Homo sapiens: one gene and its partner. The protein of the gene in region 1 purifies or fractionates together with the protein of each later gene. This does not show direct contact. Each region holds a gene or a part of one and is shown on either strand. Other genes may lie near its edges.

Evidence for each region.
Region 2: the proteins of TNC (region 1) and NID2 purify together in Homo sapiens (affinity purification with mass spectrometry, with the first as the bait; one study listed by BioGRID). This does not show direct contact.

Annotation. Positions count from the first base shown.
Region 1 is NC_000009.12:115,059,158-115,062,657, reverse strand, and holds part of TNC (tenascin isoform 1 precursor), read left to right. Parts: intron 1-2,655; coding exon 2,656-2,928; intron 2,929-3,500. UniProt on the Homo sapiens protein: Extracellular matrix protein implicated in guidance of migrating neurons as well as axons during development, synaptic plasticity as well as neuronal regeneration. Promotes neurite outgrowth from cortical neurons grown on a monolayer of astrocytes.
Region 2 is NC_000014.9:52,062,560-52,066,059, reverse strand, and holds part of NID2 (nidogen-2 precursor), read left to right. Parts: intron 1-3,500.

The DNA of each region.
Region 1 (3,500 bases):
TATATATGTGTGTGTGTATATATAGATATATACTTTTTTTTTTTTTTTTGAGTCAGGGTCTCATTCTTTTGCCCAGGCTAGAATGCAATGGTGTGACCATGGCTCACTGCAGCCTCGAACTCCTAGACTCAAGTGATTCTCCTGCCTCAGCCTCTACAGTAGCTGGAACCACAGGTGTGAGCCACCACACTCAGCTAAGTTTTTTGTATTTTTTGTAGAGATGGAGTTTCACCATTTTGCCCAGCCTGGTCTCAAACTCCCGGGCTCAAGCCATCTTCTCACCTTGGCCTCCCAAAGTGCTGGGATTACAGGCATGAGCCAGCGTGCCCTACCTCTATTCTTGGGTATATTTCTTTACATCCCTGAGCCTCCTTTTTGTATCTTTAAATCAGCAATGAACCCTACTTCAGGAAACTGTCGTGAGCAATAAATAAGTTAATGAATGTCAGTGCTTAGTAAAGCGCCCATCACGTAGTAAATACTGAATAGCAAATAGCTAAATTTATCATACAGCAACAGAGTCATGATTTTTAAAATAGCACAAACGTTAGGGCTGTGGCACAAAAATAAGATCAGAACTTTCTAGAAAAACCTTATTACTAGCCTCAGAGCCACCAACTAACACCCACCTGATAGGCAGATCTCTACATAATAACCTTTAGAAATGATGCAGTTAGCTTCTGCTGAAACTATCTAGGACTCTCTCCTCAACAGATACAAAAAGCAGGGACATTTCCAAGAAAGGACAGCCACCTTTGACTTCAATGCTTTTCATTCAATTTGGGAAGGAAAAACAATTCCTCTCAATTTTCCACCAAAAATGAGCTGCTCCATCTGTTATAAAAAACTGTGCTGTACATGAGATTTCTAGAAATAGCTTCAAAAAGGGCTATGGGAAAAAGGGCCAACTTTTTGGTGATAGGGTTTCTGTGCTGAGCCCTAAGCCCATGCCCCACTCTACATATGCTGCCTTTTGATAATGCAATCCAAATCACTCAATTCAAAACAATTGTTTTCCTTGCTCTTATATAACAGATAAACTTGGTGGTTGCTAGAAACTACATAAAATTCCAAAAATAAGGGGGCCAGGTTTTATTCCTGTGTTGCCTGGAATATCTTCAGATCAAACAAGAGCAAAAAGGGCCTTTGAGACAGGTGTGGTCTGTGTGCAAGATGCTCATATCTTCCTCTGTAGTCCGCAAACTTTTGTTTTTAGCAGTACAACTCCTTTTGCAAATGAAATCTTCCAAGGAACCCTACTATTTGACAGATAAGTGAACAGCTGTTCTTGGTGTGCCTGGAAGTAAGAGGGGGATACCTCCACCCATGTTCTCAACACAGTTCTTCTAGAAAAGCCCCAGATCTATGTGGAACACAGTTTGAAAATAACCCCTCTTAAAAGCAAGAGGTTGCTCAGAGGTTGCTCAGACTCTCACAGGGCATTGAATCCTTGGATACCCAAGAGCAAGTATCTATATCTTTCAACTATTTTTGGTTGAAATCCCTGCAGATATTCTCCTCCCTAACTTCTAACCCATGGCCACTTCAGCCTTCAAAACAGTGGCTGAGAGACTGCATTTAACCCTCAGAAGCATCCCACAAAACAATGGGTTTTTCCATATCCTAAATCCAAACTTTCTAAATCACCAATAACAACTACGTTAAATTTCCTTTCTACATTGTAGAAGCAGTAATAGTGGGTTCTGTTCTGCACCATTTACTGAGAAAAATCTCCTTTCTTTTAATTAAAAGTAGGCACACTCATTTCACACAAACAGCTTTGCTCTGTGATACAGCCATTCTTCCTTTAGACATAAAGTACGAGCAGAAAAAGGTGGAAGAAGAAACAAGCTGAGAACCCAGTACACAACTTTTGATCCCTGAAAGCTGATAGAAGACCAAAGAAAAAACATCATACTTGTTCACACCTGAGACAGCATACACTTTATCAACCCAGGCAGGTAGCCAGTGGCTAGTGATGAGATAATCTTTCTAATTATAAATAATGAAATAAAGCAGGGATTTCTCCCTGACATGAGTAAGAAATTCCAAGGGAAAACACTTGAACAATGATTTCTTTATTAAGCTGACACTTATTGGGCACTCGCCATGTATCAGGTATGATACTAAGAAGTTGATAAATATTACCATTTAATCATCACGCAATCCCATGAAACAGTACCATCAACTCCATTTAAAGGTAAAGAGAGGGTGGCTCAGAGAGAAGCTGAGTGACATGCCCAAGATTATGCAGCTAGCAAATGCTAGTATTGGGATTCTAATCAAGGACTACTTGCCTCCAAATTCTGCACTTGTAACCATTGCTGTATCTCTTACCCTAACCCACAATCCTACTTTTCCATGTGAATTTCACCTGCTAGCAATGCATGCTCCCGGTGGGTTGTGCATTGGTGCAGATGTCTTTGCCATCTCAAGGATAAACCATGTAGATATTTCCCTTTCTGGCCATTTTCAACTCCTGAAGACAACTGTGGCCAGGGAACCACAGTTCAAATTGCAAATGCTCAGAGACCAAGAATTAAAAAAAAAAATTATCTTTCCCCTTTCTCTCTTTCCTAGAGTTGGGCTGTGGGATGTTTGGTTTCCTCATTTTTGGTTTATAGAACTGACAAATACTTTTCTGTCCTTCTTCAGAGGATCTCCCACAGCTGGGAGATTTAGCCGTGTCTGAGGTTGGCTGGGATGGCCTCAGACTCAACTGGACCGCAGCTGACAATGCCTATGAGCACTTTGTCATTCAGGTGCAGGAGGTCAACAAAGTGGAGGCAGCCCAGAACCTCACGTTGCCTGGCAGCCTCAGGGCTGTGGACATCCCGGGCCTCGAGGCTGCCACGCCTTATAGAGTCTCCATCTATGGGGTGATCCGGGGCTATAGAACACCAGTACTCTCTGCTGAGGCCTCCACAGGTACTTCCTCTCCCTGTCAATGCTTTCTCCCCAAGGTTCTTTGCTTCCTTTTCAAGAGATCATGCGCGGAGTCAGCATCTCGCCATAACTGAATCCTTTTCATGTGCCTTTCAGTGGCCGGCTGTGCATGCTCAGAGACCTCCCTGTGGGCTATGACTTTGTCCTCATGCCTTTGCCATGTGGATGGTGAATGATGCAGGTGTTGCCCTTTCTGATCTCCAGCCCCCCAGCCTTTCATACTTTACCTGGCTGATTCTACATCTTTTTTGAATGATGAATTTTTGTTTCAGGAATCAGCCTGATGGTTTTAATTCACTTCTCCAGTGCTTGGAGATAACTAAAAGCTTCCCTCCCTATATATGAGTTCTGGTGGAACACAGATTATTTACTTCTGAGAGTCTTTTGCTAGTTGGAAATGGTGCTTTTCTATCTCTAAATCCCTCAAGGATATGGGTAGTGTGGTTCTTGCATGTAAGAAATGTTTCTTTAAAATGCACCCAGTATAATAAGAGAACTGAATTACCCTCCTCCGGGCAGTTCTCTCAGATACTGAGTCATTGTTAGAACATCAA
Region 2 (3,500 bases), on another chromosome or scaffold:
GAAAACTAGAAATACCATTTGACCCAGCCATCCCATTACTGGGTATATACCCAAAGGACTATAAATCATGCTGCTATAAAGACACATGCACACGTATGTTTATTGCGGCACTATTCACAATAGCAAAGACTTGGAACCAACCCAAATGTCCAACAATGATAGACTGGATTAAGAAAATGTGGCACATATACACCATGGAATACTATGCAGCCTTAAAAAATGATGAGTTCATGTCCTTTGTAGGGACATGGATGAAATTGGAAACCATCATTCTCAGTAAACTATCGCAAGAACAAAAAACCAAACACTGCATATTCTCACTCATAGGTGGGAATTGAACAATGAGATCACATGGACACAGGAAGGGGAATATCACACTCTGGGGACTGTGGTGGGGTTGGGGGAGGGGGGAGGGATAGCATTGGGAGATATACCTAATGCTAGATGACACGTTAGTGGGTGCAGCGCACCAGCATGGCACATGTATACATATGTAACTAACCTGCACAATGTGCACATGTACCCTAAAACTTAGAGTATAATAAAAAATAAATAAATAAATAAATAAATAAATAAAAAAGAAAGGGGAAAAAAAAAAAAAAAGAAAGGAGGATTCTGTTTGGATAGGGGATGTTCTTTCAATTACCCACATTGAAGTTTCTTCCAATATTTTAAAGAGCTCTGGGACTTGAGTTCTTGTTTTAATAGTTCTTTGGAGATAGACTTTGGCAAACAGTAATCTAATTTGCTTGAAGGACTGAGTTCTACATGGCGTTCTTAAAGTTTGGCTTACTAACTTTATATTGCAAAGTTACTGGAAACTGGAAGATTCAAAGCAATGGCATCTTTGCCATTAAAAACAATTGCAGTTGGTGCCCTTTTTCTCCATGGATATTCCTGTCAGGTGTGACCAGATGTTGCACCTGATATTGCAGGAATGTCAAGGTGTAATTGTATCTGAAAAAAAAATGTGAACAAATAGTGTTTGTCAATTCAGTTAATCTGAGATTTCTTGAACTCTCATAGGTAGTTCACAGAGCAAAAAAGTTATGGTGTAGACCTTTGAAATACTTATTGATGGGAGACATAGAGGACTAATGTTTAGCTGTGCTTTTTGTGGGGAAAGAGGAGTGTTTTGTTTTTGTCATTTTAGGGATGGGGTTAGAGACAGCTGAGTTATATAGATCTCTGTAATGTGGGGAATGTTTTGTTTATCTGGAATTTAAGTCAGGTTGAAAGGGCTAAAAAGAATGGATATTGAGAATGAGGTATCAAGAGAGATTGTTCTGAGCAAAAACATGACCCAGGAGAAGGTTGAGAGAGCAACCTATTAGCAAAGGGGCCAGAGAAATGGATGAAGGAGTCACAGGCAGTAACATAAGACAGATGAGTGCAAGGTTGCCCGCTATGGTTGAATATTTGTCCCCTCTGAAAATCATGTTGAAACTTAATCCTCAATGTGACAGTATTGAGAGGTGGGGCCTTTGAAAGGTGACTGGGTCATGAGGGCTCTGCCCTCAGGAATGGATTAATTTATTCATTCATGGATTACTGGATTATCATGGAGTGGGCCTGGTTGCTTTATAAGAAGAGGAATTGAGACCTGAGCTAGCACATTAGCACACTCAGCTTTGTCGCCATGTGATACCGTAAGTACCCTGGCACTCTGCAGTCACCACTAGCCAGAAGGCCCTCACCAGATGTGACCTCTCAACTTTGGACTTCTCAGCCTCCATAATTGTAAGAAGTAAATTCCTTTTCTTTGTGAATTACCCAATTTCAAGTATTTTGTTGTAAACAACAGAAGACAAATTAAGACACTGCCCAATGGAGGCCTCCATCTGGGTGGAGACTGAGACATGTTGACTTGGTTCAAAGGTTGATAGTCATTGATGGAGGTGGTTGGATTTCACAGAGAAAATGAGAGGTAAAAGCAGGACTTTATTGTAGCTTTTTGACTTCTGGAGACAAGGTTTAGAAGAGGGGTGGTCTACAGCCCATCCAAGAGAGTTCAGACTGAGTCTGAGATATCACTGTGAAGATGAAGAGAATAGAGACATATATGGAAATTGGTTAATGCTGAACCATATATGGAAATTAGAAATGCTGACGTTTTGCTGAAGAGTATCAGGAAGGATATAGTATTAGGGATGTGATAGCACTCAGCATTTGTCTTTGAATTTTTGGCAGGATCTGTAGGATTTAGTGCAGTAAAATAAATGAGGGACAGTCCCCCATGTGACAGTGTCCTACAGGCAGTGGGAGATGAAGAACTACACTAAGGAATGGAGGTTAGTGTTCACAGCAAACACTGGAGGCCAGACCCAATGATCCTAGAGCTCTAGAGGACATGTGGTCCTGAGGAAGATGACAAAGAGAACTTTGTGACCCCTATAAGAGTCACCCTAATTCTTCATTTCCATTTTCATTTTCATTTTGATAAGCCTCTATAGGCAAGCCCCTTGAAGAAAAGGATGTCACTATTCTGATTTTTGTCCAGATAGCTGCAGTTAATTAAATGAATTGAAAAAATTAGAAACTCTTAGAGGGGTGTATGTTGCATGCATCAGCCTGGCTCTGATGAGTGTCACTTCAACATTGATTGGGATGTCCTGTACCTGGGAGGGAGAGTCAGGCTCTGGTTTCTGCAGAGGGCTCTGGCTTTTCTCTCTTTCTGATAACAGGGCCTGCAGCCACTCACCCTGATCCTCTCTGTGCTGCTCCTCTCCCTGTGGAGGCCCCTCTCTCCTCTCTGGGATCCTGGGGGAGCTGGGAACCAGTGACTCGTTTGTCAGGTTTGGCAGCCCATCTGAGGGCTTCTCTTTGGAGACAGAGCCTGTGCGGCTCTTGCAAAAGCTTGTATCTAGGAATGTGAGGACCTTTCCTGTTTGGAAGCCAGTCAAGGAGTTTTTTGAGAGGGGGAGCCCTTCAAGACTTCATGAAGTGGGCTCTTTAGCAATTAGATGTAGAATTTTGTAGAACTGACCAAGAACTTTACAAGTGATCATTTAGTGTGTGGGTGGCTTTTAAACAGCCAAACTCTTTTGGCGTGTACTTTGGGATCATAAATTCTACTTAAAAGGAAGTTGTTTCCTTCCTCTGATATTTGCCTATTTTGGTGGAGACAAAGAAATTAAATACTTGCCACCCATAATGAGTGCTCATCTCAAGAACAGTATATAGAAGATGTTGAATAAATTTTAATTGAAATGAATTTGTTGGCTGGTTGAATGAATGAATGAATAAAATAAAGTGCTAAATGCCCAGAGTTCACAGCAAAAAGTCAGACTCTCCTCTTCACAGCTCTGTTTACTACTCTCTTCCCCCCTTCCCCATCCCCTTCAATTCTTCACAGTCTCTACAACCTCCTTATCTTATGGAATTTCTCTAAATTTAGAACCAGGATTCTCTCCTATCTCACATTTATTATGGCAGATCAATGCCAGGAGCTTTGAAAGCTTAGCTTTTTGAAATGGGGTTTTTTCTCCTTCCTCTAGTAC